Linked DNA regions of Homo sapiens: region 1 is linked to region 2. Evidence: fine-mapped expression QTL. A gene starts in region 2. The other region holds a variant in brackets. All regions are shown on one strand. Distances are between the middles of the regions. Region 1 has its middle 13 kb from the start of LINC00847. Region 2 holds the start of HEIH (hepatocellular carcinoma up-regulated EZH2-associated long non-coding RNA).

Region 1 (15,204 bases), 18 kb after region 2:
GTACATGTGGCGGTCTAGAGGTAGGACCAGCAGGATAGCTGTGCCGTCTATCTCTGGGCCAGGCAACTGCTGCAGTCCTACCATGTCCCCAGCAGATGGGCAGGGGAAAGGCAGGGCCCAGTCTTTACAGGGGCAGGTCCTGGAGTTGCACACCTCACTTCCCCTCATATCCTACAGGCCAGAACTTAGGTGCAGGTACACACCAAGCTGCATAGGAGGCCGAGGTAGATGGTATTACTTGCCTGCAATTCTTCCTTCCCTCTTTTCTCTTACTAATGTTCACCAAAGTGGAGAGTACTTTTCCACAACTCATGCAGGGCTTTGGCCAATGGAATGTGGGCAGAAGCGAGTTTGTTAGTTCTGAGCTGAGGCCTTAGGAGGCCTCTTGTGTCTCTGCTCGTCCTCTGGCCCTGTTGCCACCCCAGGTGGTCACTGGTCCAGAGGATGAGAGACAAGTGAAGCAGCCCTGACTCGGCTCACAGCTTGAAGCAGAGCGGCCTCCACCAGCCTGCAAGAAAAATAAATGACTTTTTTGATAAGCCACTGAGAGTTTGAGGTTGCCTACCGTGAGCTCAGCCTTAACTGAGTGAGTTCTACTAGTAACGAAGGGGAGAATGAACATTTGTGGACTTCGAGCATTCTGCAGTATGAGAGGGGCCCCTCTCTGGATGGAGCAGGGAAGACCTGACCTGTAGGGACTCCTTAGGGGTCCAGAGCAAAGCCCAGGCGGCTTAGTTAGACGGCATGCTCTCCTGGGACTCTCATGGGCAGACAGACTGGAGATCAGCTGAACTGGGGCCAGCTGGAAACACCTCTGTCTGGAGACATCTTGGGGATAAAGGGAAGTTTGGGGTGGGAAGAATGATAATGGAAAGCTGCGTCCAAACAAATAAAACTGTCGCATTAACAAGTTGAAGAAGAGTTTTCCCAGTGAGTCGAGAACTGGTGCTAATAATAGAAGCCTCAAACAGCTGTGCATTTTGCCATATTAAATAGTTCATTTGTGTCTGTCTGTTGCCAGCACAGCTGTAGAGAATGATGCTGCTCCAGTTTGATCCAATACAGTATTTGGAATGCATGGAAAAGATCACTGATGCCTTTACCTGATGCCTTACCTCTGAAGGATATTTCTCCACATAATCGGCCCTCGGTTTTGTGCTGAATGCAGCTGTTGAAGGAAGCAGCTCTCTGTATTACTTGCTGATTATCCTGCCAACAGGAATTTGGGTGTGCGGAAATGGCATCAAATTCTTTCCACTGGGAAAGTGCTAGCAACAAACAAGAGGTTAAAAAGCTTTTGAAAGCACAGCAATTTGGGTGTGAATATCCATTCTGAGGTGGATGAATTAGTTCCTGATAAAGTATTGGCTGCTTATTTGAAACTGGTTGAGGAAAAGAAAACATGGCTTTAAAAAGCTCTTCAAATACAAATATATCCTCAATTTTATCTGCTTTTTACTGATATTTATCTGTCTGCCTTCTATTATGAAAATTTTCAACACTGAAAAATGTCAAAAGAAACCACAAATGCTTTTCATCTAGATTCAATGGTTGTTAACGTTTTACCATATTTGGTTTTTCTCCTCTCTCTGTCTCCCCACAAACACATGATACACACCATTTTTGAAAATAAGTTGTCAGTATGGCATCATGATCCGTAAGTGCTTCAATATGAATCTCCTAAGAATAAAGAAAATCTCCTGTATAACCGCAATACCACTATCATACCTAGGAAACTTAACAATGATTCTACAATCACAACTAATATCCAAGTCATTTTAAAATTTTTGCAATTGTACCTTAAATGTTTGTATGCAGTTTCCCCCGAGAGCTAATCAAGGCTTATGGATTCCATCTGGAGGCTAATCTGGAAAATCTCCCCCACCTTAACTTCTGTTTGGTTTTGATTTACGACATTGACTTGAGGAATCTGGGCCAGCTGTCTTAGAGAAGGTCACACATCCCTGGCTTGCCCGATTGTTTCCTGATGGTGTCCTTTAACTTTTACTTTTAAGCCCTTATAATGGAAGTTAGGTTTTAGGTTTGAATAAACTTTTTTCTTTTATTTATTTATTTATTTGGCTATAAAGAATACTTTACAGGTATTCCATGAGGAGGTCCTCACACTGGGTTTTTGCCAGCAGCGATGCTCAGGGGGATGACCTGTTGAGAAAGTAATTATTATATGTCCATGAGAAGGTACCTTTGCCTGGAACATCAACTGAGGCAAAGTTTACATGCTATTGCTTTGCAGGGTGGGGGTGCAATGCTGTGAAAGGGGAAAAATGAATTGAGGGGGAAACTACAAGATGGTCTGCTGCTGAATTAGCCACTGCTTGATAAACAGCACAGCTGGCCGCTTGGCTATGTGAGACATCTTTGGAGGTGCTGTGTAGCTCCGTTGCACCTCAGAGGAGTCCTACAAGGCAAAGCTCACGTGGTGGTAAAGCACTTGTACTTCAGGATTGTGTTGCTAGCTGCCTCGACACAGCCACTGGGAAAGCCAGTTCACCCGGGGCTCCTGCTGGACCTGGGCACAGGAGTTGCTGCAGCTCCTGCCCTGGCAGGTGGAATGACATGGCCTTGCCAAAGACAGCGGTGCCTGTCATTATAGGAGGTAAGGTGACAAGGTGGAAGCTGGAACTTTGCGGCCATCACTGGAGCTGCTTTACCTAGGATCAGGGTAGTGGGTCCCCAGGGGCAGGCAGGGTCAAATGGATGTGCTGGCTGGGTATAAATTGGATCCAACATTTTTTTCCTTTTAAATTACTGAATGATTTGTGGGGTGTACTTTGCCCCTGTAGGAATATTCTATTGCCCTGCCACGTTTATGTAATGGTTTCAGTATCCATTGATTATTCTTGCCTGTACCATTTATTACAGCAGGAGATGCAAGATATGAGGGTTAGTTATGTTCGTTACCACTAGGGTGTCATCGTACGCTTTTTCAGGAACACAACTAGGATGCTTTATTTACATATGTAATGAATATATATATAATAAAAATATATATATAATGAAATAGTATGAGTTTGTATTGCTATTGAAATTTAACATAAGTGTTTACATTATTTTTTTATATTTTATCTTTTTCCTCTTATACAGAAAAATTCCTAGTTCCTAATAATATTGATATATAGATATAGTCAGAGTAATATGTTCAAGTTACCCAAATTAACCTTTTTGTTTATTGTTGGTTTGGATCAATTTTATATAGAGTTGGTCATTTATTTCTCTTAAGGTACAATTTTAAGGCATTTTCCTTTATAAATTACTTTTATTTCTGAATATATAGAGAATAAATGGTTCAAAAATCAACATTGTGTAAAAACATTTGATCAGAGAAGTCTCACGCCTGTGCACATCCCCACCACCCTGCCCCAGTCTCCCTACAAGGATAGGTCATCAAGTTGATTCGTTTCTGGTTTTTCCTCTCCTGTGTTTCTTTTTGCAAACATGAGCAAGTACATATATACATTTTAATTTATCCTTCTTTCTTACACAAAATGTGGCGCACTATACACTCTGTTCTGTCTTGCTTCTCTCTCTTAATAATGTATGTTCAAGGCATCATTCCACATTGGTTCACAGACACCTTAAATACCAATTTTTTTTTTTTAGATGGAGTCTTGCTGTGTTGCCCAGGCTGGAGTGCAGTGGCACGATCTCGGTTCACTACAACCTCCACCTCCTGGGTTCAAGCAATTCTCCTGCCTCAGCTTCCCGAGTAGCTGGGATTACAGGTGCCCACCACCATGCCCGACTCATTTTTTGTATTTTTAGTAGAGACGGGGTTTCACCATGTTGGTCAGGCTGGTCTTGAACACCCACCTCAGGTGATCTGCCCGCCTCGGCCTCCCAAAGTGCTGGGATTACAGGTAAGAGCCACTGCGCCCGGCTTTCAATACCAAAATTTATCAATTGTTTATCATATGTCCAATGTATTAGGGTAAGCTAGACAATGCTCCCGTAGCACAAAAAAAAAAAAAAAACAAACCTCAAATTTCAGTGGCTTTACAAATAAAAGGCCGATCGCTTGCTCACATAAGGTCCTTTGTGGATTGGACAACCCTCCTCTATCTTGTAATTGCATCACCTACAACATGTATCTATATGGTGGCTTATTGGCTAGAGCCGTCACATGGACTCAAACTGGTGGCAAATGTAGTGTTATGTTCATGAAGAGGAAACTGAGAGGGGATTTGGTGGGTACTACTAGCACTATCTCAGCCACGCAAGGCTTTATATAGGCCTCACAACAGCTCTGTAAAGTAGATAATCTGATTGTTCCCATTTTACAGCTAAGCACATTGAGGCTCCAAGTATTCATATGCCTTTCAGAGTCATAGTGTTCCTGTATAACAGGGTTCATTTCAAATGTAGGTTTCTCTGCCTTTAAAGCCTGTACTTATACCCAATTCCGTGGTCAGTCATTATTGTCCACTAATAAAGAATGGCAAATCCATTTCATCCACGCATGAATGCAAATCTCCAACATAAGAGATCAGTACAATTGGTACAGAACAATAAATATTTAGAGTTAAGATTCATAAGCTGTTTTCTACAAAAAAGTGCAAGATTAAAATTAAATCCCTGGACCAATGAAGACTAAAACATTACAGGACACAATGTTTCAGTAAATTGGAAAATAAAACAGTTTTATTTATAATTTCTGAATCAAGAGCTAATTGTTATAGGAATTTTTTAAAGCTCAAAGTGAAACTGTAAACATTTTTTCTTCCTCTTCCTAAGTAAGAGCATCATATACTGAGCACATGAGAGAAGTTATAAATCTTTCAAAACCATTTGGGGTGGTTCTGAGGACTTACGTCAAGTAATCTTCAAGGATTTCAGTCTTCCCTTTAAAGGAAGAAATAAACAAAAAAATCACATGGCCATTTGGACAGTGCCTCTTGCCCAACATTATCACTTACTGCCTAAGACTCCAGGCAACAATGTGTCCAGTGTATGCTTTTAGAAAGTGATTACAACCAACTAAAACTGGGAACCCCAAATTAAAGGAAGCATTGCCGTCTGTATGCTGGGACTGTAGACTCAGTGACAAGGTAGGGTGGTTCCAGAAGAGTGATTTTCCCTCACCTGTGAGTGTGAAACTAACACCTGGCTGCTGACCCAACATCGTTTTCACAAAGAACACCCTGGGAGTTTCATTATCATATCAGGTGCTTCAGGCATTCTGGACTGTGACTACAGTTCAGGAGGACCATCAGCCAGTGTACACACACACACAAGTTTTATGAGACTAAATTCAGGCAATACACTCTGATCCCCACCCTACCCCACCCGCCTACCAGACTCTTGCCTTTCCATCAAAGCCCACTCTCTGCCCCACATAGGCCAGGTCTGTCCATCCCCTCAGGATCAGGACCTTTGGGCTTGGTTTTTCCTGTTATTCTTCTTTTTCCCACCCTACACCCCATCCCTCAACAGAAGGTCAGTTATTGTGTGGAATTGCTCGCACACCGATGTTATCATGAAGCGCTGCACTCTTCCCTGCCTTCCTCCTGTTCAGGCTGTTCCTTTAACCTTTGGCTAGAGGCAAGGATGAACGTCACCTCCTGGACAAGACTTCTCCAAGTCTTTGGCAACCAGGACCGTGGGCTGGGCTCCAGGGCCTTGCAGGGCCTCCTTCCAAAGAACCGAGTCTTTCTTCACTGGTTCTCTCCTCTCTCTCTCTGCCTGGCCACAATGCCTTCTGAGGCCTTATCACCCTTTGTTAACACTTGCTCATCCAGACTCTTCTGCCAGGGCCATCTGGGTCTTTTAAATTGGCATTAGAGTTTAAAAAAAGTCAAATCAAACTGGTATTTAACAAAAACATTGCAGGCGGTGGCTCACGCCTGTAATCCCAGCACTTTGGGAGGCCGAGGCGGGCAGATGACGAGGTCAGGAGATCGAGACAATCCTGACAAACATGGTGAAACCC[CG/G]TCTCTACTAAAAATACAAAAAATTAGCTGGGCGCGCTGGGGGGCACCTGTAGTCCCAGCTACTCGGGAGGCTGAGGCAGGAGAATGGCGTGAACCCGGGAGGCGGAGCTTGCAGTGAGCCGAGATCGCACCACTGCACTCCAGCCTGGGCCACAGAGCAACACTCCATCTCAAAATAAATAAATAAATAAAAATAAATAAAATAAAAAAATAAAAACAACAACAAAAAACTCCTAATCATTGTTAATGTGGAAATGGTTGCCACTGGAATAAATTTGAAATTATGTATTTAAAAAAATCTAACCAGTATTTAAGTTCTGCTATGTGTGCCTAACACTGTTAGGAGCACACAGTTAAGACACAAGTTCTTGCATTCAAGAATCATATTGGAAGACAAGATTTAAGTAAATGAAAGCCATTTAACGGTGACCCAGAAAATAAAATGAGTCTGGAATGATTAATAAAATCATATAATGACATTGTGTTTCCTCATCTGTGGAATCACAGAGGATTTGATCAGGTTATCCATAAAGTTCCCTCTTTTATTCCAAATAAATGACACTAGATATTTCAAATTTTATTATTTTTTATATATAACATATAATTTGTATTATACTATATAATATAATATAAAACATAATTATATAATATATTATATAATATAGGTAATTATAATATATAATTATAATATATAAAATATATATAATATATAATATATAATTATATTATATATTATATAATTATATACAATATATAATATAATATATAATTTATAATATATAATATAATAAAATAATAATATAAATTGTTATATAATAAAATAATATAACAGTACTATGTGCCAGACACCATGGCTGACAACTCTTCCAACTTTCATAAAACCATGAGGTGGCCATTATAAATCTTCCATGTGGCAGGTGGGGAAACAGGCACAGAGAGGTTAAGAATTTGCCCGTGGGCACACAGCATTGTGGTACAGTTGGCATTTGAACCCAAGGGAGATAACCAGTGTGCCATGGCATCTCTGTGTAGCCCTAACCTCATTCTTTCCCATACTTACTTTTCAAAGTGTATTTCCTTGCTTCTTTAATGGGAAAACAATGTATCCTTCTTGGGATGCCTATTTTTCTCTTTTCCATTAACCCACAAACTTGGCCTTCTCAGTTCAAACTTGTACAATTTGCAACCAAGTTTCTAACATTGTCTTGGCTGGGACTCTTCTCTAGGGATTTGGTTTACTGGAATCTACAAATTTTACTCCGATTTTAGCCGAAAGTCCTGTCTCATTCACTGTATCGCTTATCTTTTTAAATTTTCTCAAAACGTGGTAGGCAAAATCTTCATCTTGTAGCTCGCTTTTTTTCTACCCCTTTTAACATTTTGATTCCACAGCCTCCCTGGGAGGACCTCCTCATAGTGCTTCACTGAAACCTGAGTTTCTTCCATGGCTGCTCCTGTCTACTTCATCCCTGCAGCTGCTGCACATCCACCCAAGTCCTCTCAAGACACTGCTGTGGGACTGAGAAATAGGAAAAGGAGGAAAGCCAGGGACAGCTGTGCCACAGTGAATTCCAACGTAGGGCAACGAAAGCTCATCCTGACAGCGTACTGCACTTTCGAGGAGCGTGGCATTTGAGCTGGGAATAAAGTCCGAGGACATCAGGAGGTGAAGGGAGAGCTACCGCCCTGGCTGAGAGAGGGAGATGAGTCTGGGGTCTGTGTGTCCCTCAGGCCAGCCATCCCTGACCTCTACCCTGGAACAAACTGCCTGTGGTGTTCTGTATAGTGCCAAAGCCCAGAAAACAACAAATCATGATTTTTTTACTCAGAATATTCTCCTCACCTGGGTTCCAGCTGAGTAGATCTGAGCCATTTCATGTATTACATCCAGTTCCTCACTGAAATGCCAATTGTTTTTCACCCACTCGAGAAGGCAAGTCAGCTTGCTGTGCCCACAGACATGACCTCAAATGGGTTTGATTTATTTAGGCAGGTCAGTCATCTGAAAAGGTCAGCCCTTAGCAGTTCCTAGGAATTAATCAGTGGTGTGACACAACGCAGCTGTGATTGCCACAAACCAGCGACAACTGGGTAGTGGCAGGCACGGTACTAAATTATTAACCCCCAGAAGTTTGTGCCCGCCCCCCCTTTTTTTTAAACTTGCCTTGAATGCCACCTAATGAGTGCTTGCTGGGGCGTGAAACAGTCTTGAACCTACATTCTTGCATTGTTTTGGAAGGCGTCCTGTGTTGATACTGAGTGGGGGCCTCGTACAGACCACATTTTGTCACAAAATAAGGTAGAAAAGAGTGAATCATACACCTGGAAAAAGATCAGAGAACTGTGCTTTGAAAGATTAATAGATGTGTTTCCCTTTTTATGACGAATGAAGATTATTACTGACAATTATTTAAAATGTTTCTAATAATTACAATGGTTGTTCTAGTTTAAAACTCATTTCACAAAAGATAAAGAATTATACAGTTCTAATTAAGGTTTGGGAGTAATAGTTAAAACTGGTTTTCCCCAAAGTACTTTTCAACTGTTCCTGCACAAGGAGATGAGTAAAGAATTTGCTCAGGGTCTGTGATGAGCTGGACCCTGGAATGAAGACCAGAATCCAAGCTCCTGACCTCAGACCCAGCTTAGATGATAAGGAGCGTAAATACTCATACTGGAGTTTGGTTGTTCTTGAAGAGAGATTTATGATCCCCAAACCAGGAGTTCCTTTTTCCCCTGGTTGCTTTCAAGACCTTGTGGTGACCCACCTACTCCCAGGAGGCAATCCTGATTAATTTTACTGCCTCCAAACCGGTCTTTGTGTCAGCACTTCTGAATTGACTTCAGTCTTTTGTTTCTTTGTTATTTCTTAAGAGTGAATTTCCTTTCTCCATGTGACCTGAAATATCTTGAAGGCAAAAGACGCTTCTATTTATAACTGTGCTTCCTTGACCTTCCTCTCCCACCCTTCTCCCTCCATACCCCTCTTCCTGCCTCCCTGCCGCCCCTCCCCTTCCACACACAAGTGGAGGCCCAGTGCAGGAAAACCTCAGCCTCCTGGCGTCAGGAAGGTTTCAAATTCTCACTGGTAATGGACACACACCGTCTGGAGGAGCTGGGCTGAAAAATTACTGGCCTGGACAAATGCTCCTGATTTAAATGTAAATTCAGACTTAAAAAATAGACCTGGTGATATTCAGAACTTACAATATCGTTTAAACAGACTGGCTTTCTCTGTGAAGATCACTCTTTAGGAGCCCTGAAAAGGAGAGGCCAGGTGGGAAACGGGAACTATGGGAACTGCTTCCTCAGGGAGGGGAGTGCAGGGCTCTCCACCAAGTGCCCCCTGGAAGCTCAATGCCCAGCAGCGCCAGGCGCCTTCCGATTGTATCTGCGAACCTAAAGCCCTCAGATGTTTATGCAGCTCTTTGCGGTTTTAAAAGGGTTCCCACACACATGGTTTCACCTGATCCTCATGAGTGCCTTGCCAGGGGTGAAGGACAGATTTCATTATCCTCGCTTTATGAAGAGGAAACTGGATCCCTGGAGTCCACGGAAATGAGAGGAGCCAGGATCTGAGCCCACCCATAAATATTCATTGAATTGCACTAATATAGAAATATATGATTATTTTAAGGTAAACAGAATGTTTGTCCTTAAGAAGCTCATATCTAATTGTGGAGAAATGTTCAAAAATTTTTTTTTTATTTATTTTTGAGATGGTGTCTTGCTGTGTCACCCAGGCTGGAGTGCAGTGGCACGTACTCGACTCACTGCAACCTCCGCCTCCCAGGTTCAAGCGATTCTCCTGCCTCAGCCTCCCTACTAGCTGGGATTACAGGTATGCGCCACCACGCCCGGCTGATTTTTGTATTGTTAGTAGAGATGGGGTTTTACCATATTGGCCAGGCTGGTCTCAAACTTCTGACCTCAGGTGATCCGTCTGCCTCGGCCTCCCAAAGTGCTGGGATTACAGGCATGAGCCACCGCACCCGGCTCCAAAATAAACGTAATTAAAATAACCATACAAGGAATAAATAAGGCAAGACCAGACATCCTTCATTGTAAAATGAGGCGAGAAAGTGCTGTGATTTTTTAGGGGACTTAGGTAACTGTTACCCCATGATTGAATGGAACTGAAATTTCTGTATCTTCCACCCCAACTCCATTCCATGTTCCTGCTGAATATTCTGGGTTTTGCTAGAATTCCTTATGACACATAAAAAGTCTTCAGCTCTACGCCTTAGGCATGGCGATGTCTGGGTTTGTCACGTCATCTTCAGTCCTGTATTTACAGTGCAACTCAGGGCCAAAACAAAAAAGAATTTTTTTTTTTAATTTAAAAAGTCACAGGGAACATGAAAAAGGGGAAGAGGGAAATTTGTCTTCAGTGTTGCAGGAAAGTCCACCCTCTCCTTCTAGGGGTGGAACTTAGTGGATCTAATGAATCACACATGAAAAGAGACGTAAAAGAGGAAGGAGTTTCAGGAGGGTATTGGCCAGGTCAAAGGAGAGGGTGGAGGAAAAGAGCCACGAAATAACCGGGAGACAAGCTTTCGGAGGCTTTTGACTGACTGGATGTGGGAATGTTGTGGAAGACTTCTGGCCTGCCATTTCCTGAGAACGGGACTGCTGAGAGAGGAGCTGGGAGGAGCACTGCAAATTTCACTTTGGACACGTGAGTCAGAGGTATCTGTGAGGGGACTGAGTTGGGAGGGCAAGCAGGGAATTGGACATGTGGGCCTGGAGCACAGAGAAGGGACTTGAGCATGCATATTTGGGTGTTCCCTCCAAAACTTATGTTGAAACTTAATCCCCAGAGTGGCAGCATGGAGAGGTGGGGCCTTTAAGAGGTGATTGGATCATGAAGGCTCTATTCCCACTAATGAATGGATTCATCATGGGAGAACTGGCGGCTTTATAAGAGAGGAAGAGAGACCTGCGCTAGCACCTTAGCACGCTCAGTCCCCCTGCCATGTCATGCCCTGAACCCCTCAGGACTCTGCAGAGAGTTCCTACCATCAAGAGGGCTCTCACCAAATGCAGCCCCTCAACTTTGGACTTCTCAGCCTCCAGAGCTGTAAGAAATAAATTCCCTTTCCTTATAAATTACCCAGTTTCAGATATTCCTTGTTTTTAATTTTTAATTTTTTTTTTTTTTTGAGACAGAGTCTCACTCTGTCGCCTAGGCTGGAGTGCAGTGGCGCGATCTCAGCTCACTGCAACCACCGCCCCCCCGGGTTCAAGCGATTCTCCTGCCTCAGCCTCTGGGGTAGCTGGGATTACAGGCACCTGCCACCACGCCTGGCTAATTTTTATATTTTTAGTAGGGATGGGGTTTCACCATCTTGGTCAGGTTGGTCTTCAACTCCTGACCTCATGACCCACCCGCCTCAGCCTCCCAAAGTGCTGAGATTACAAGCGTGAGCCACTGCACCCGACCCCAGTTTCAGATATTCTGTCATAAGCAATAGAAACAGACTAAGTATCTTTGACATGGAGTGGATACTGGAAGCCATGTGACTTCTGTGGGATCATCTCGAAAGAAAGTGTAAAATGAGAAGACACAAGGGCCCAGGAAAGAGCCCTAGGGAACTCCGCATTTGTACAGCAAGTGGTGGGTAAAGAGAGAAAAGGGAGAAGCCTGCTAGGATGCTGAGGAGGAGCAGCCAGAGGAGGGGGAACCCCAGAGAGCGTGCTGGCGTGGGAGTCAAGAGAAGTGTGTCAGAAGAAGGGAGCGGTTGACAATGTCAGAAGCTGCCAAGAGGCACAATAAGATTGAGGGAACAAGTGAGTGTGGTTGTTTCTTTATGGGCCAGAATTTTAAATACCAGGATGAAGGGCACCTAACAAATAGCAAATACACAAACTAACTTTTGTACCTACCAGACTTCAGACTAAAATCGGTACAAAGAATACTCGCCAGGGTAAGGAGAAGCCCAGGAAATTACAAGAGATATCTAGTTTCTGAAATGAATTACAATGATCATCTGAACAAATAGTGTGAAAAAATATACACCTGAAAAAATGTGTGAAAATGGCCAACAAAACATTGAAAATCAGGGTTACTGGGGAAGACTTTTACTGCCAGTTATTAAAATTTACTATCAGCTGTATTGACTGGAACAGCTGCCAGAATAGGTAATTCAACAGCCAGGATGGGAAGCCCTGATACATAAGTTTGGTGGGGACTGTAGGTAGCCCCTCTGGCTACCTTCTTTCTAGTTGAATAGGTTACATATCTAACTCCCTTGCAATTAGGTTCACCTACTCAGGTGCCCTTGAGTTAGACTTGAAAGGCAGAAGACAGCAGAGGCCATTTTACTGCTGCTTCTGATGGAGATGCGAGGCTTCCATAGGAAAGAGGGGTCCACTGGTATAAAGAGCCCGACAACCATGTTCTCCAGATGTTCAGTCCCTCTTGGCCACCCCACACCAAATGACAGTCCGCGAGACTCTGCCCATGGAGACTCCACCTGCTGGTCCTCTAGGTGGAGTAACTGATAACAAAAATCTCTAGCTTACTCCTAAGTGTTTATTCTGAAGGCAGTATGTACAGCAAGACCAGACTTTTGGCCCAGCTAGCGGTGACTACTGCAATGTCAAAAGAGCACATAAACAGACTTAAAAAGCAAATGACAAACTGGGAAAATTGCTGTAACATAGGTAACAAAGGGCTGATATTCTATAAAGAGTTCTTGCAAATGAATAAGACAAAGATGAATCCAAGTGGGCAAAAGATATGCTGTAGGCAATCTGCAAAAGTGATGCATAAAAACAGGTTCAACATTACTAGCAATTAGTGGAATAAAACTTAAAACAACAATGCAAAACCATCGTTCTATCATATTAACAAAGATGACAAAAAATGGTGTGACAGTGCAGGGTGTGGAGAAAAGTTGGTGTCAAAGCTGTGCCATCTTTCTGTGTATCTTTCATATCAAACAAACGCCTTCAACAATGAGCACACCTTTCGACACGAGTTCCCAGACTTTATCCTAAAAAAAAAAAAAATGACGTGCACACAGATTTAGCTACAAGTAATTTTGCAAAAGTGAAAAGTTGAAAACAACCCAAATGTACAAAAATAGGGGAGATAATTATGGTACATTTGTATAATAGTATGCCACTTGGTCATTAAAAATGCCATAGAAGTATATTTTTCATAAACTTATTTCTAGCTGCTGGTTTTACAGGTGGTTTTTGCTTTTTTATTTTATCATTTATATTTTCCTGTAATTATTGCATATTTTTTAATAATTTTTTAAAACCGGCAATTATATGGTGAAAAGGAGAGAAGGGCATTAGTAAATTCTGAAGCAACTGAAATTAAATTGTAATTGCTCATTAATAAATAAACATCATTACATACTAACATTTACCTTAAATAAACTAGATTTCATTTTTCTACTATGGGAGGAAAGACCTAAAATACAAATTGACTCGAATTATAGAAAATAAAGTTACAATTCAGGAATATCTGTCTTTGGACTGTGAAATTTGTACCTGTTATGTATGTGTGTGTGTGTGTGCCTGTGTGTGTGTGCGTGTGTATAAAAAATATTTGGAAAGATATCCACTAGTTTAAAAGTGGTTCCTTTCAGCAGGGTGGGATGAGAGGGGGACAGGAGACAAATTTTTATTTACACAACTCTGTATGACTTGTTATAACAAGCACGAAAAATCGAAGGTCACTTAAGTAAAAATGGTTATAATTATGAAAATACTTAGAAATATGTAAAGTCTCTATGGTATGATTAGAAATCATAATGCAAAATCTGTATACTGTGCTTATACCTATGTTCATATATTTCCATGTGAGAGAAGCCCGAAGGGGAATACTCTGCGGTGAAAGTAGCTTTTCAAGTTCATTCATTGGTTCATTTATTCCACAAATGTGTGCTGAGCTGCTACCATGGGCCAGCCAACTGTTGCAGCCACCGGGATATAGCAATCAAAAATCAAATGTGCCTCCACTCAGGGAACTTAAATTCTAGTAGTGGGAGACAGACAATACATGGTAAACCCGGCGAGTATTTCAGGAAGTGGTGAGCGTCCTGGGAAAAGTGGAGCAGGCCAAGGGAGACTAGCAGTGCTCTGGGTCAGGGGCAGGTTTAAACAGGTTGGTCAGGAAAGGCCTCACTGAGGTGACATGGGAGGAAAGATTTGAAAGAGCTGAAGGGTTCAGTCCTGGAAATGCCTGGAAGGGGTGTTTTACAAATAGACAACAGCCGGTGCAGAGGCCAATGCAGCTAACAGAGGAAGGGGAGAGCAGGTCAGACAGCTAGGCAGGCCAGTGGGTTGTCCGGCTCTGCAGCCATTGTAAGGACTTTGGCGTTTTATTTCAAGTAAACTGAGGAGCCGCTGTGCAGTTTGGAGCACAGAAACGACAGGATCCCTGTGGCTGCTGTACGGAAACCCAGCGACTGGGAGGGTAGGGAGGGCAGGGAGACCTAGGTGTTCAGGTGAGGGATGAAGGGGGGTGTGGACATGTTGAGGTGTTGCATCCTAGACACAGATTGAAGGTAGGGTCAACAGGATTTCTAGTCAGATTGTGTAGAGGGGGTGAGAGAGTGAAGCTGGCTCTTCTGGTTCTGGCCTGAGTAAATGGAGCCGCCATTAATGCCCATGGGAAAGACAGGTGGGCGGAGAAGGTTTGAAGGTGGGGGAAGAAAGGGTCTTATTTTCTTCTTCCTTGCAATAATATATCCCAAGCAATATAATTAAGCAATATGTATTTTTCCCTTTAAGGAAATTCCAAAAATTATATCGTTCCAAATAAAAAAATCATCTCCAGAGTCCTGACGCAGCAACCATTACATTCCCAGTAATGGAAATGTTAAGTCAGTCCGTGCTCTGGAGAAATCCCACGACAGAACACAGGCCAGGAGACCGGGCCTAGATTCCGGTTTTCGAACCGTGGGGGCAAACACGGAGGCTGCAAATCCATCCCCAGTCCGGCAAGATTCTCGAACATGTCGGGAGAGGGCTGCATAGGAACTTCAAAAACGAGTAGCGGCTCCCCTGGATTCAGCGTGAGGGGGAAACCGCGGGGCAGGTTCGAAACTCAGGAGTCCGACGTCTGAAGGAGCGGGAGGCTGCTTCCGAGGAGCCCGGGGCACGACGGGAAGGGCCGCGCCGGCCAGGCAGCCCTCCTCCCGGCAGCCTCGGGCAGGCCGTTCACGCGCCGGCGACGGCGGGCCCGGCCGCAGGTACCAACAGCACCTGTCAGAGGGCAGCGCGGGCGCACCCTGCA
Region 2 (16,589 bases):
GTTCTGTCATTTTCCCATCTGTAAAATGAGGGAAAAGACCTGTTTACAAGATTATTTTAAGGCTTAATAAAAATGCTCTGTACTTTATAAAAATTTTGTACAAACGTTGTTAAATTGACTATCTTTTTAAAAGTTGAAGGAGATAAGAATGAGAGCAAAAGTTGATGAAACAGCAAACACAACAAAGAACAACAAAGTCAAGGTTGCTGCTTTGAAAAGACAAAATTGGTAAACCTCTGATGTGATTGAGAAAGAAAAGCACAAATAATCAAAGTCAGGAATGAAAATTGGGAAATCACAACAGATTCCATGGCTTATTTAGAAGTATATTTTTTAACTTCCAAACATGGGAATTTCCTAGTTATATTTTTGTTATTGTTGTTACAAAACATGGTCCATGTGACTGCTGTCCTTTGAATTGTGTTGAGATTTGCTTTATGGCCCAGCATGTGTTTAACCTTAGTGAAGATTTGTGGGCACTTGAAAAGAATGCATGTTCTGCAGATGCCGCATGCAGTCATCTACATAAAGCCATTAGATTGTAATACGTTGTTCATATCTTCTCTGCTCTTAATGAAGTTTTATTTGCTTCTATTAATGAGACAATTGTTGAGTTATCTCTACTTAGATATAGTTCTGTGAACTTTGCTTTATATATTTGAGGCCACACAAATATAAAATTGTTATATGAATTGAAATTTTATGAAGTAAACCTTTTATCCCTAGTAATGCCTTTTACTAAAAGTCTCTTTTTTTCTGGTATTAATAACATCAGCTTCTTTTTTGGTTACCGTTATATGGCATTTCTCTTTCTTTACTTTCACGCTTTCTGTATTTTTATGTTTTAGATGTACCTCTTGGAAATAGCATATAGTTTGTTTTAATCCAGTCTGATAACTTACTTTAACAGGATCATTTAGCCCTTTAATTTATAGTTATGAATGATTCTATTCATACTCTATTTTTCCATCTTTTGGTTTGGAAGTTATATACTTTTTCTCTTCTTTTAGTGGCCTAGGAATTAAAAGGTGGATTCTTGACTTACCAAAGCCTAATGTTAATTGATACTTTTATCTTCGTCCTAGACAATGCAAAGTTCCTAGAATACTTCTTACCTTCCATCCTATATGCTGTTGTTTTGGTTAATTTTAATTATATATACATATAAATGTACATATATATTAAAATATGTTATTATTTTCTATACCAAACGTTTAATTACTTTTCTTTTTTTTTAAATTTATTTATTTATTTTTTTTTTTTGGAGACAGTCTTGCTTTGTCACCCAGGCTGGAGTGCAGTGGCAAAATCTCGGCTCACTGCAATGGCTACCTCCCAGATTCAAGCAATTCTCCTACCTCAGCCTCCCCAGTAGCTGGGACTATAGGCACACACCACCATGCCCGGCTAATTGTTGTATTTTTAGTAGAGACGGGGGTTTCACTGTGTTGGCCAGGCTGGTCTTGAACTCCTGACCTCAGGTGATCCACCTGCCTTGGCCTCCCAAATTGCTAGGATTACAGGCATGAGCCACCATGCCCAACCTTTTCATTTCCTTTCATTCTTCTCCACCTCTGCAATTTTTTATTTGGGGACATTTTCCTTCTCTCTAGAAAACTTTCTTTAGAATACTCTGTCCTGTTAGAGGTAAAACTTCACAATTTTTATTTGCCTAAAAATAACTTCATTCTTAAAAATGGTTTTTTGTGGGAATAGAATTCTAGGTTAGACCTCATGTTCTTTTGTCACATTGGATGCATTAAGCCACTGAAGTGTGATTTCCACTCTGGCTGTTCATCTGCCAGTTTAATGTATTCTTTTTAAAATAGCTTCTTTTAAGATTTTTTTAATCTTCGGTTTATTCCAGTTTCACTGTGTTTTATTTTGGTGTGGATTTTTTATAAGTGATCCTTTTTTGTATACTCTGGGCTTTTAAATTTGTGTATTTATCTTTCATGAGTTTTGGTAAATTCTCAGCCATTGTGTGCTCAGATATTAGCTCTATACCATTCTTTTTTCATTTCCTTCTAGGACTCCAAATAAAGCCTTCTCACTGTATCTCCTGTGCCTCTTAAGTGCTCGTTTCCATCCTTTTGTCCCCTACTCCTTACCCAGGCTTCATTCTGGATCTAATTTACCTTCCAGTTCACTAAGTTTCTCTTTAGCTATGTAATCTGGCTTAAATATACCCATTGAGTGCTCAATTTAAGTTTTTCTGTTTCTCAGTAATAGACTTTTCATTTGCTTCCTTTTTTCTGGAGACGGAGTATCACTCTGTCGCCCAAGGTTGGAGTACAGTGGCAAAATCTGGGCTCACAGCAACCTCTGCCTTCCAGGTTCAAGCAATTCTTACGCCTCCCATGTAACTGGGATTACAGGTGTGCACCACCATGCCTGGCTAATTTTTGTATTTTTAGTAGAGAGGGGTTGTGCTGTGTTGCCAGGCTGGTCTCAAACTCCTGACCTCAAGTGATCTGCCCACCCCAGCTTCCCAAAGCTCTAGGATTACAGGCATGAGCCACAGCACTGGACCTTCTTCCTTTTTCATAGTATGCCAGATTCTCAAATGTAGCTTTATTTTCCTTGAACATAGTAGCATTTTTAGTTTAAAAGCTGTGTCTGATAGCATCTGTGGCAGTGCTTTCTCTGATGTTGACTCTGAGTGTGTCACCTATTCTCTGCATTAGATTTCTTCCATCTGAACACTTGAGTGGTTTCTGATTTTCAGGTTAGAATCTGACTGATAGACTGCTGTCTGCATGCTCTTAATCTGGGCCTTACAATTTTCTACAGAATCCTTTCACAGCCCACAGCCCACAGCCCCTCTTTGTATTTTGTTAACTTTCAGTAAAAGGGAACTTGGTTCAAGAACTGTAAAAGTTGTTGTCTGAACCCAAAATTCTAAAGGGAATCCAAACTGGGAAAGAAAAAATCCTCGCCTCAAGTTCCTAGCCTTAGTAAAAAGTATATATATATATATATATGTGTGTATGTATATATATATGTGTATGTATATATATGTATGTATATATATATGTGTGTGTGTGTGTGTATATATATATGGATATAGCACACTGCCATGCTTTCCATTTTGTTTCAGTTGGTCTCTTATCCAGCAAGTTCATTTTCTTTCCACAAAACAATATCTGGGATACAAGAGGTTAGCTATTTGCTAATAGTTAAGACGTTTTGGGGTCATTTCAATTCAGTATTTTTAATGTTTCATTCAGAAGTCATTTGAATAACTAAGAAGTTATTTCTTAGACCCTGTCCTCAGAATACACCATTGCAACAAAAAACAAAAAAACCTCAGCACAAATCATGGAGTTCCTAGGTTCCAGCGTCCTTCTTTTTCTGGACGCTTTTTTCCTCTAAAAACAAAGATTGACTCAAGCATGTAACAACAGAAATACTGTGATAGCAATACTATGCTAACATTTTTATTTATTCCTGTGATCTTAACACCTTCCTCCCCAACCCCAACACACACACACACACACACACACACACACACAAATTGTTTTAGCTACTTCTATTTTTTTTTTGAGGCAGATTCTCGCTCTGTCGCCCAGGCTAGATAGAGTGCAGTGGCGGGATCTTGGCTCACTGCAACCTCCACCTCCAGGGTTCAAGCGATTCTCCTGCCTTAGCCTCCTGAGTAGCTGGGATTACAGGCGCCCACCACATGCCCGGCTCATTTTTGTATTTTTAGTAGAGATGGGGTTTCACTGTGTTGGCCAGGCTTGTCTCGAACTCCTGACCTTATGATCCACCTGCCTCAGCCTCCCAAAGTGCTGGGATTACAGGCCTGAGCCACCATGCCCAGCCATTTTAGCTGCTTCTATGGGAAGAGTTACGTTTCCCAGTTTGATTCTCATCTCTACCCACACCTAGAATCCTGCAAGTTATCTAGTTTATCTTGTCTGGAAACTGGCTGATTGACATCCAGTGGGGCTTTGAGGGGCATCTTCAAAGCCTTCCCCATCCCCAGCTCCTCAACTCCCTCTGAAGCTGACTGCCCCTTTTCACGGCCAGTGCATTTAGGAGAAGCCAGGGATCTGCCCCTGAACATAACTAGGCCTTGGCTAAGACCACTGTCCACTGTGCCCAAGCAGTCAGGCACATGGGACAGTGGACAAACACCATGGCTAGAACATCTTCATGGAACACGCCCTCATGATGCAATGGCCTTGTGGCACTTACTGTGGAGGCCTCCACCTGGGGATCCTCAGCTCGCCTCTCTGGCCTTCCTGACATTCTTTCTTTAGGCAGTCCCACAACTAGTATGTTAGGTGGGCTGGGGGCTGGTGGAAAGGGACCACAAGCATATACCCATTGTAAGGTTAGTTCTTCATTAATTAACCAGGGATTCAAAATCTTACCAGAAGCAAAATGGTGGGTGGGGCAGAGAAAAAACAAATTCAGCACATCACTGTGAAGCTGTCCTTGGCGCTGGGAGTTCTTAAGGGGGTAGGAGGCAAGCAGATCTGGAACACTTATTTCCTGTCAGGACACAACCATTTTATTTTTTATTTATTGTAACTTTTAGGTTCAGGAGTACATGTGCAGGTTTGTTATGTAGGTAAACTGTGTCACAGGGATTTGGTGTTCAAATTGTTTCATCACCCAGGTAATAAGCATAGTACCCAATAGGAATTTTTTCTGATACTCTTCCTCCTCCTGCCCTTCACCCTCAAGTAGGCCTCAGTGTCTGTTTTTCCCCTCTTTGTATCCATGTGTTCTCATTGTTTAGCTCCCACTTGTAAGTGAAAACATGCGGTATTTGGTTTTTCCGTTGCAGCATTAGTTCTCTTAGGATAATGGCCTCCAGCTCCACTCATGTTGCTGCAAAGGATGTGATCTCCTTTTTTATGGCTGCATAGTATTCCATGAACACAACCATTTTAAACTAAGGGATTAGGTGACTGTTATGAAAGAAACTAAGTAATTTGTGCTTTAAGGAATTCATACAAACAGGCTGTCATGGTTCCTGAACCAGCCTCAGTATCACCAGGGCAGCATGTGAGAGGAAGTTGAGGCAGTATCTTGGCACTGTTTTTAGCCACTGCTCTATACCAGGCCTTTATATGAGTGCTTTTGCTTCTAAACATACGCTTTTGGTTTTTAACAAAAGGAACCTGACTGTATATACATGATATTGGCACATTTGCATTTAGACAGTAGCTCACCTTTCTGTAAAAGTCCACATACATCTTTCTGCATTCTTTCTAAGGGTTTCCTAGTACACTCATTGTATAGTTATACCATACTTTACTTAACCCCCTCATGATAAATGTTTTGGTGGTTTCCAGTTTTTGTTAGTATCAACAGTGTTGCAGTAAAATACATTTTTCTCTCCTGTATGTTATCCTACAAATACATTTCTAAAGGCAGAATTGCTGAGTTAAGATTTGCTTTTAAATTTTTGCTACATACTGGAAAATTGCTCTCCAAAAATATTGTAACAATTTATACTTTTGACAATAGTGTATGAAACTTTGTTTCTCCACACCTTCACAAACACTAGGTATTATCAACATTTTTCACCTTTTACCAAACTGATGGTTAACAAATGCTCTTTTTAAAAAAATTTTATTTTGAAACAATCTAAACTTGCCAAAGAAGTATAGTATAAAACTTTTTCCTTCCTGAACCATTTGAGAATAAGCTTCTGATATGATGCCCCATCACCTCAGAATACTTTTGAGTGTGTATTTCCTACAAGAACCTCCTACATCATCAGCATACAACCATGAAAATTAGGGACTCAACATCAATTCATTACTACTACCTAATGCTCAGACCCCGTGCAAGTTTCTTTCATTGTCCTAATGTCCTTTAGAGCAAAGATTTCAGTTTAGAATTGTGCATTGTGAGTGTTGCATCTTTTTAGTCTCCTTCAATCTAGAATGGTGCCTCAGCCCTTCCTCAACTTTCATGACTTTTCAAAATTGCCCTACTCACCTCACTTGGGCAGTGACACCCTCACTCCCTGCATGGTCCCCTCTTCACCTTGCTTGGGCACTGAGACCCATGCCAGGCCATGCTCCACCACCACATGGGCCTCCTTGACTCCCTCCTCACCCTGCTTGGGCTCCAACACCTAGCTTCAGGACAATGAAGTTCTGTCCCCCCACAACAGAATCCCATCTTGTTTGGTTTTGTGTAACGGGAGCTGAATTGTTAAGGAAGGGAAGGGAATTCTTTTTTTCATCTCTTAGTAGAAATTTAAGATTTCCTATACACAGGTCCAGTTAAGTTTATTCCTAGCTTCAATAAATGTTTAAAGGAGAGTCAACATCCTCAACAACTTTACATCAAGTGCATTGGCAAATGTAAGGTTTTTTTCTTGAGGGAAACTTTAACAGAGCCCAAGAACAGGACCTTGTACTTGAAGGTGCATCAGCTGAAACAGGAGGCTCGGAGGAGGGCGGCTGTCCCTTCTCGTGAACATCCCTTCAAGAGAAGCCAGACATTTGACAGAAATTGAAAAGGAGACTGTTGGAGATTATATTTCTTCTTGAGGGCCTGGATGCTGGTTTTCAGTTACGTAGTCTTCTCCCCAAGGCAAATTCATCCCAGAAGAGTCTTGTGGGGAAAATTCCAGTAAGTTGAACACTTAATTATCATAAATTTCAATGGGAGAAATTGTTATACATTCCAGAGCCTCCGAATTAACATACCTTTATGCCCAAATCCTTTACATCCCAATAGATAGACTGAGTTAATCTCTGCTAAAAGTTAACTCAGGGATTAGGAGCTTCCCTTCAATGGTTAGCCTAAAAAACAGCTGCTTGGTACCTGGCTGCTTTCCCCACCCTCACTGCCGACATCTGTCATTCAGCTTCTTCCTACCGAGTGTGAGGTGCCACACTCTTCAGTTGCTGCTCACAGTCAAGCCTTACAGCTCAAAGCTCAGAGAAGTAGACCTTTAATGCAAAACAAACCCACAAAACAGAAGAAATGTGATAGATAAACACAGTGCTAGTGATGATGTCACACGCAGTGAATAAGCCATTGTATGAAAAAGCAGAAAAGATGGGGAGGACGCAGGTAGAGTCACTGCTGTTGGATTCATCTTCAGAGATGGGCCACACGGTGGTCTCGTTTCATGGCCCTCAGCCACTCACCAATGCTTTGCAAGCTGTTTCATGCTTACTAAATTAATTCTTCATCCAGCTGATGGCCTGAAATAGAGACTGGGATAAGCCTGAGTTAGCAGAAGCTTCATTGCTCTGGGAAGCAGGCGGTAGGTGGCAGGGCTATGTCTGTGGACACTGAGGGACCTGGCTCTCAGGTGGCTACACATGTATCTGCAGAAAAATGTGGGTTTTATAGCTATTCAAATTCATTTCTGGAGATTCTCATTTGATAGCACAGGAATGTTATGCAATATTAATAAGTATAGCTTTTTTATCAACTTGAATAAAATGTATTCTTACAGGAAATTAATTGAATGCTGTGGCAGTCCCTACTTACTGCCTCTGCAAAGAGTAGCCCATAGATCTGCAACCCACCTCTGTTGTCACTATCCAGCCCCCGTGGCTCTGGAATGACAACACAGAACGCTTTCCAAGGCAGCATGGCCCTTACCTCAGTTTACATTTTCACGACAAGACTGGTTTCGCCATGTAGGCTGCTTTGTGGCTTGACCTCTGATGTGGGTTCACTTGTGCCCCCTAAAAATATATGTTCAAGTCCTAACCCGCAGTACATACAAATGTGACCTTATTTGGAAATTGCATCTTTACAAAGGTAATCAAATTAAGATGAGGTCACACTGGATTTGAGGGGCCCTGAATGCAAAGACTTGTCCTTATGAGGAGTGAGAGATTGAGAGACCCACAGGGGAGAACACTGTGTGAAGACTGAGGTAGGGATTAGAGTTGTGTTACTACAAGGAAAAGAATGTCAGGGATTGCTGGGAGCCACCGGAAGCTGAAAGAGGCAAGAAAAGATTTGCCTCTAGAGCCTTCAGAGGGCAATGGCCCTACTAACAACTTGATTTCAGGCTTCTGTCTTCCAAGTCTGTGAGAAAATAAATTTCTGTTACTTAAGCTTCTCAGTTTGTAGAATGAATAGTCATGGGTCACTTAACGTGGATACGTTGTGAGAAATGCATCGTTAGGCCGTTGTGTGAACATCATAGAGGGCACACTCACAAACCTAGCCAGGAGAGCCTACTACACAGCTAGGCTGCACGGCATGGCCTAATGCGCCGGGGCTGCAAACCAGTACAGCATGTGACTGTACTCTGAATACTGTAGGCAACTGTAACACGGTAAGTATTTGTGTATCTAACCATAGAAAAGGTACCGTAAAAATAATGGTGTTATAATTGTATGGAGTACTGTCAGAAACGCAGCCTGCTGCTGACCAAAATGTCATGTGGTATGTGACTCCTTTGTTACGGCTGCCCTAGGAAATTAATACAGGCTGCAAGAGCCAAACAACCTTAATTAATTAATTAGTTTTTTAGAATTTCAAATAAAGTTTCATACTGCACTTGAAATAGTGGTGAGAACATCCATTTGGTAATGAAACTGTCACATAAATGATCGGCTCAGTTGACACTGGCTGAGGAAAACTGCACAAGAAGTTTATTGTCAAAAACATTTATTTCTTCAAGTACAAATAGTAAGTATTAACCATTTCGGATGGTTTGCATGTGCTCGGTTTTACTTATGTTAACTCATTTTTACCTCACAACAGTTACCGTGGTAAGAAATTATTATCCACATTGATATGTAAATATCAATCCACAGAGGAAGAAAATTGCTTAAGACCAAAGTCATAGTTATTAAATGCCAGGGTCACAATATACCATCTGCAAGCTGGAGAATCAGAGAAGCCGGTGGCATGGCCTGATCCAAGTTGGAAGGCCTGAGAAACAAGGAGGCACATGGTGTAACTAAGTTCAAGGCTAAAGGCTTGAGAGCCCCAGAGGGCCACTGGTGCAAGTGTCAGAGTCCAAAGGCCAAAGGACCTAGAGTTGTGTGGTACAAGGGCATGAGAAGGGTGTCACAGCTCTGGAAGAGAGAATTCACCCTTCTTCCACCTTTTTGTTCCATCTGGGCCCTCAGGTGATTGGATAGTGCCTGCCTACATTGAGGGTTGATCTTCCCTACTCAGTCCACTGAGCAGGTATTCTCAAGTCTTTATCCTTGAACTCAGTTCCACCATGTGCTTGTTTCTCAGGCCTTCCAACTTAGACCAAGCCATGCTACCATTTCTTTCTTAGAGTTCTGAAGGCTGGCAAGTCCAAGATCAAGGTGCAGGCAGATCTGGTGTCTGAGGAAAGCCCACCTGCTTCTGGTTTGCAGATGGCAGTCTTTGTGTGGTAGTCTTACATGGCAGAGAGAGAGAGCAAGCTTTTGTGTCTCTCTTTATAATGCCACTGCCATGATCTGAATGTGTCCCCTGAAATTCACTCATAAAACAGTCTCCTCCAAAAACATGGTCCTTCTCAGAAACAGTGCTTCCCCAGCCATCTAGGCATCCCTCAATCCTGTCAAGTTGACACCTAAAACTATCACAGGGACACTCTACAAGTAACTGGTAAACCCACCAGAAGATCAGGGTCCAGATGCAGAAAGCAGGTGCTGATGAGTTTTTAAATATCTTGGGGTCTCCTAGTGGGCTGCTATAGCAAGTTACCATAGACTGGGTGGCTTAAACAACACACATTTCTTTCTTACTGTTCTGAAGGCTGGCAAGTCCAAGATCAAGGTGCAGGCACATCTGGTGTCTGATGAGGGTCCACCCGCTTTCTGATTTGCTGAGGACAGTCTTCTTGTGGTATTCTCACATGGCAGAGAGCAAGCTCTTGTGTCTCTTTTTATAAGGCCACTGCGATGGTCTGAATGTGTCTCCCAACATTCATGTGTTAGAAACTTGGTCCCCACCAGCTATATGGAGGCTGAGGTGGGAGGATCGCTTGAGCCCAGGAGTTTGAGGCTGCAGTGATCTATGATCATGCCACTATACTCCAGCCTAGGCAACAGAACAAGGCCCCATCAATCAGTCAGTCAATACATAAATAAGTCTTTCCATCTATCCCTAATGCAACAGCTGTGAGAGAACAAACATCTGTTCTATATAAATTACCCAGTCTCGGGTATTCTATTATAGCAGCACAAAATGGACTAAGACAGCCACTAATCCCACTCATGAGGGCCCTACCATCATGGCCTAATTAGTTACTTCCCAAAGTTCCCACTTCCTGTTACCATCACAAAGGGGTTAGGATCTCAGCATAGAAACTTTGGGGGCAGACGAGCATTCAGTCCATAACATGGAGTGTCTTAGCTTGGGTTGCTATAACAAATACCATGCCAGCTGGGCGCAGTGGCTCACGCCTGTAATCCCAGCACTTTGGGAGGCCGAGGCGGGCGGATCATGAGGTCAGGAGATCGAGACCATCCTGGCTAACACGGTGAAACCCCATCTCTATTAAAAATACAAAACTTAGCCAGGTGTGGTGGCGCATACCTGTAATCCCAGCTACTCAGGAGGCTGAGGCAGGAGAATCGCTTGAACCCGGGAGGCAGAGGTTGCAGTGAGCCGAGATCGTGCCACTGCGCTCCAGCCTGGGCAATAGAGCGAGACTCCATCTCAAAAAAAAAAAAAAAATACCGTGTCATAGAGTGGTGGAGAAATTTATTTCTCAGTTCTGGGGGTTAGAAGTCTGAGATCGTGGTGCCAGCATGGTCACGTTATGGTGAGGGTCATCTTACAAGTTGCAGATGGCTGCCCTCTTACTGTATCCTCATATGGCAGAAAATCAGCAAGCTAGCTCTCTGTTCTCTTTTTTTTTTTTTTTTTTTGAGACAGAGTTTCACCGTATCGCCCAGGCTGGAGTGCAGTGGCGCAGTCTCAGCTCACTGAAAGCTCTGCCTCCCAGGTTTACACCATTCTCCTGCCTCAGCCTCCTGAGTAGCTGGGACTACAGGCACCCGCTGCCACACCTGGTTAATTTTTTGTATTTTAGTGGAGATGGGGTTTCACCGTGTTAGCCAGGATGGTCTCGATCTCTTGACCTCGTGATCCGCCCACCTCAGCCTCCCAAAGTGCTGGGATTACAGGTGTGAGCCATCTCTGTTCTCTTAGGCAGTCATTCCATTCATGAGGGCTCCACTCTCATGACCTAATTACCTCCCAAAGGCCCCACCTCCAAATAGAGAAATAGATTTCAACATTAATTTTGGGGTGACAGTCCATTCGTAACGGAATGAACCAGGAGACTGCTGACCAGAACATGGAAAGTGCAGCCTTGTAAACAGTCCGTGTGCTCAAGCCTGGCTGACTGTCAGACACAACAACCAAACCCTCACCTTGACCCCCACCCCCAGCCACACTGGAACCTGAACTGAGAGGCCACCCTTTCCCTGCAGGACCAGCTCCTAGAACAGCGGTTCTCAAACTTGAGCAAGTGTCAGAATCACCTGAAGGGCTTTGTTAAAACACAGGCTGCTGGGCCCCAGAGTTTCTGATGCAGGAAGTCTGGGTGGCTGAGAATTTGCATGGTTACAAGTTCCTGGGTGATGCAGATTCTGTGTGTCTGGAGGTAACATTTTGAGAACTGCTGTTTCAGAAGTTCTCCACATTAAAGTCTACCAGTCCTGACTGGTACCTAAGGGGTCATGAGGTAGTCAGTGCACAAGATAGAAAGTGAAAACACTGTCTTAGAATTTAAAACAATACTTCCTAACACCAATAGGTAGCTTTTGATAAAGGAATTATCAAGCATGGCTGTATTCATTTCTTATTGCTGCTGTAACAGATTACTACAATTTGGTGGCTTAAAACAATGTAAATTTATTATCCTAGAGTTTTGGAAATCAGAAATGGAAGCCCAGGCGCAGTGGCTCATGCCTGTAATCTCAGAACTTTGGGAGACCAAGGCAGGAGGACTGCTGGGGCACAGGAGTTTCAGACCAGCCTGGGCAACATAGTGAAACCCCATCTCTACAAAAAATGCAAAAATTAGCCAGGCATGCTGGTGCACCCCTGTAGTCCCGGCTACCTGGGAGGCTGAGGTGGAAGGTTCACTTGAGTCCAGGAAGGTTGAGGCTGCAGTGAGCCATGATTACGCCACTGCACTCCAGCCTGGGTGACAGAACAGACTGTCTCAAAGAAAAAAAGAAATTAGAAGTGAATCTCACTGGGCTAAAATCAAGGAGCCAGCAAGAGTTGTGTTTTTTGTTTTTTGTTTTGAGATGGAGTCTCGCTCTTGTCACCCAGGCTGGAGTGCAATGGTGCGATCTCAGCTCACTGCAACGTCTGCCTCCCAGGTTCAAGCGATTCTGGGGAGGGGAGGAGGAGGGAAGCAAGGAGAGAGGAACGCAGGGAGCAGAGCCTGACCTGGTCACAGGGGTCTGGGAAAGACAGAGGCTTTGTTAGAGCCGGCAGCTGAGGGCCGAGGCCGAGCAGGGGTTAGGCCAGCACAGGACGAAAAGGAAGAAAGTTCCAGGTGGAGTCTGGTGGAGAAAGACCGACCTGGAAGGCACCAGCATGTGCACGTGGCAACTGAGGTCGAGGACGTGCCTGAGAGAGAGGAGGAAGGTGCCCTGCGGACCGGGTAGGGTGCGGAGGTCGGGAATGGAGAACGGTCGTTGGGCAGGTCCGGGTACCCGTAGCCAGAACCACCCGGGTGTGCGCAGCTCGGCCAGGCCCCGCCTCCCGGCGTCCCCGCCCCCTGCTGGGCCTCTCTCCGCAGCCGCGAGACCCGCGCTTGGCGCATAGGCCGGTTCTAATTTACAAGAACACCGCGGCCTGAGGCCGGAGAGTCCCTTCAACCCGGGAGGCGGCGGCTGCAGGGAGCCGAGACGGCGCCATTGCCCTCCAGCCTGGGCAAAAAGAGCGAAACTCCGTCTCAAAAAAAAAAAAACATGGCCGAAACCAGGAAGCTGCGCGATGGCGCCACGGCCCCTCTTCTCCCGGCCTGTGTCCGGAAGGTTTCCCTCCGAGGCGCCCCGGCTCCCGCAAGCGGAGGAGAGGGCGGGACGTGCCGGGGCCGGAGCTCAGAGGCCCTGGGGCCGCTCTGCTCTCCCGCCATCGCAAGGGCGGCGCTGACCTGAGGCCTCCCCGCAAAGGTCCCCGAGGCGGCGGCGGCGGCGGGCTGTGAGAACCGCAGAAGAACGCTGGGCGCGCAGCGACCCGTCCACCCCCGCGAGGAGAGACTTCCACAGAGGCAGCGTTTCCACAGCCCAAAGCCACGTTTCTAGGGTGATGCAGCCCCAGTAAGTTCCTGGCGGGGAAGCTCACGGCTGTCAAAAGAACTCTTCGCTCCAGCCGGCGCACGAAGGGGAGGAGGGCAGGAGGCTGCCGCCCGCACAGGTCATCTGATCACGTCGCCCGCCCTAGTCTGCTTTTGTGAATCTCCACTTTGTTCAACCCCCACCCGCCGTCTCTCCCTCCCTGCGCCTTCCCTCTAACCTTAAAGACCCAGCTACCTCTACGCAAATGGTAGCTACCTCTGCGCAGGTGGAAGTTGAGTTCGGTTCACGCGGGACCCTCTTCCCTGTGGCAAGCTGCTGAAGGAGACCTGCTGTTACTGCTTTAGCTGCTGTTCTGCTTAATCTCAGACAGCTGGAAGGTAGTATTCCGCCCTCGCCCAGCCACCCGAGTAAATGAGAATGATGACTGACTGAGACCCTGATGGTGGTGGCTTAGGCTTAATCTCAGACAGCTGGAAGGTAGTATTCCGCCCTCACCCAGCCACCCGAGTAAATGAGAATGATGACTGACTGAGACCCTGATGGTGGTGGCTTAGGCAAGATGAACGTCTGAAATGGAGGCCCAGGGCTGCCACGATGGCTCTGTAGTCATCAGGGAGGGAGCTCCTTTTATCTTGTTACCTACTCCCCTCTTGTGCCCCTTTCTTCCCTTGATCTAAGAAGGTTGCTCCGGATCTCGCCATCTGGCCTGCGTTCAATCAGCAGAAGCTTCCTGGAGGAGCAGGAGGAGGCACTGTGCTCGCATCACATACCAGTGGCCAGAAGTTGGCTTCAGGGAAGCTCAGGAAATAGGATGCGAGAAGCCATGAGACCTCCCCAAACTCTGCAGTAACAGAGTCAACAAGACAATGGCTTAAAGATGGAGAGACCAGTTGATCGGTCACACAAGCTGTTCCACGATAATTCTTGTGTCAGAAGGGGAGGCTGACTACCAGGACCACTGGCCCCACTTCCAGCCCCTCCATTCTGAGTACACTTCAGAGGGCTCTGGCAGGGTGAGGGGGTCTTGGTGGTGCCACAGAGAGTAAAGGTCTAGCACACCCATTGTGGAGATATTTCATGGGGACAACCCAGTGACTTCACTTGAAGTAAAGTGGGATTTTCCAACCTTGAGATTCTTATTTTCTTTGGTATGCGTGTGGAAGAAGTATGAAGGTGGGGGTTGGGAGGGAGAGCAAATGAGCTGTGTGTATGAGGAGCTGGGGCCTGGCTCTTGACAATATCACCCACCCCCACCCCAGGCTTTCCTTGGGGCAGAAAGACTATGGCCGGGGCTTTCAGTGTCGGCTCCGAGGTATAGAGGTATAACCAGTGCTTTTGGCTAAGTCACGTCACTGATGAGCTTCTCTTTCCACCTTGGCAAACCAATTCTTCTGTAAAATGGTCTTCAAAGTTTCTTTTTTAAAGCAGAGAAACTTATTTTTCAGATAAAAATTTAGATAGAACTATCGGGGGAACCCGATAGGGGCCAGATATCGGGGGAACCCACCCCCAATATTTCAACATAGGTTCTTTCTATTTTCCATAAATGTTGGCCGGCTGAGAAATAAAGAGTACAAAGAGCGGAATTTTACAGCTGGGCCACCGGGGGTGACATCACATATTGGTAGGACCGTGATGCTCACCTGAGCCGTAAAACCAGCAGGTTTTTATTAAGGATTTCAAAAGGGGAGGGAGTGTACGAACAGGGAGTAGGAACAAAGATCATATGCTTCAAAGGGCAAAAGGCAGAACAAAGATCACATGCTTCTGAGGAAACAGGACAAAGGGCAAAAGGCAGAACAAAGATCACATGCCTCTGAGGAAACAGGACAAAGGGCAAAAGGCAGAACAAAGATCACATGCCTCTGAGGAAACAGGACAAAGGGCAAAAGGCAGAACAAAGATCACATGCTTCTGAGGAAACAGGACAAGGGGCAAAAGGCAGAACTCCTGATAAGGGTCTATGTTCAGTGGTGCACGTAGTGTCTTGATAAACACCTTAACAGAAAACAGGGTCTAAGAGCAGAGAACCGGTCTGACCAAAAATTTACCAGGATGGAGTTTCCCAATCCTAATAAGGCTGAGGGTACTGCAGGAGACCAGGACGTATCTCAGTCCTTATCGCTACCGCATAGGACAGACACTCCCAGAGCAGCCATTTATAGACCTACCCCCAGGAATGCATTCCTTTCCCAGGGTCTTAATTATTAATATTCCTTGCTAGGAAAAGAATTCAGCAATATCTTCCCTACTTGCACGTCCATTTATAGGCTCTCTGCAAGAAGAAAAATATGGCTCTTTTTGCCTGACCCCGCAGGCAGTCAGACCTTATGGTTGTCTTCCCTTGTTCCCTAAAAATTGCTGTTATTCTGTTCTTTTTCAAGGTGCACTGATTTCATATTGTTCAAACACACGTTTTATAATCAATTTGTACAGTTAACACAATTATCATAGTGATCCTGAGGTGACATACATGCTCAGCTTATGAAGATAACAGGATTAAGAGATTAAAGTAAAGACAGGCATAAGAAATTATAAAAGCATTATTTGGGAACTGATAAATGTCCATATTAAAATAAAATCTTCACAATTTATGTTCTTCTGCCACAGCTCCAGCTGGTCCTTCCATTCGGGGTCCCTGACTTCCCGCAACATAGAACCCTCAAATAGATGAAGGTGGAGCTTCTTGGGTAGAGACTGGAGGATTGGGGTGTTGCCCACCGGGCCTTACGGACTCTCCTGAGTGATCTGAGTCACCTCCAAAGAGCTAGGTGTCAACTCCAAAACACCCTGTGTCCCTTTCTTCCATTTAGTAATCGAAGCCTTACCACCAGAGGTTTGGCAGGGCACGTTGAAGGGGTGGGTTGCCCCTCCACACCTGTGGGTGTTTCTCGTTAGGTGGAACGAGAGACTTGGAAAAGAAAAAGACACAGAGACAAAGTATAGAGAAAGAAATAAGGGGGCCCGGGGAACCAGCGTTCAGCATATGGAGGATCCCGCCAGCCTCTGAGTTCCCTTAGTATTTATTGATCATTTGTGGGTGTTTCTCCGAGAGGGGGATGTGTCAGGGTCACAAGACAATAGCGGGGAGAGAGTCAGCAGACAAACACGTGAACAAAGGTCTTTGCATCATAGACAAGGTAAAGAATCAAGTGCTGTGCTTTTAGATATGCATACACATAAACATCTCAATGCTTTACAAAGCAGTATTGCTGCCCGCATGTCCCACCTCCAGCCCTAAGGCGGTTTTTCCCTATCTCAGTAGATGGAACGTAAATTGGGTTTTATACCGAGACATTCCATTGCCCAGGGACGGGCAGGAGACAGATGCCTTCCTCTTGTCTCAACTGCAAGAGGCATGCCTTCCTC

Evidence for each region. PIP is the estimated chance that this variant, and not a neighbour inherited with it, causes the effect.
Region 1: its variant is fine-mapped to the expression of HEIH in unexposed skin (GTEx, PIP 0.97).

Annotation. Positions count from the first base shown.
Region 1 is chr5:180,810,847-180,826,050 of GRCh38, reverse strand. It overlaps a transcript of MGAT1 not described here. Among named protein-coding and RNA genes, the nearest start is that of LINC00847, 13 kb to the left of the region's middle. RefSeq lists silencers at 1,088-1,382, 14,950-15,199 and an enhancer at 11,456-11,715. The variant CG/G (reference allele first, on the strand shown) is at 5,948.
Region 2 is chr5:180,827,716-180,844,304 of GRCh38, reverse strand. HEIH (hepatocellular carcinoma up-regulated EZH2-associated long non-coding RNA) reads left to right here and starts at 12,687. Exons shown (of 1, transcript NR_045680.1): 1 at 12,687-14,351. LINC00847 (long intergenic non-protein coding RNA 847) reads right to left here and starts at 13,348. Exons shown (of 3, transcript NR_045679.1): 1 at 13,076-13,348; 2 at 11,445-11,632; 3 at 8,579-9,993. It also overlaps a transcript of ZFP62 not described here. RefSeq lists silencers at 11,973-12,142, 12,583-12,712, 13,073-13,122.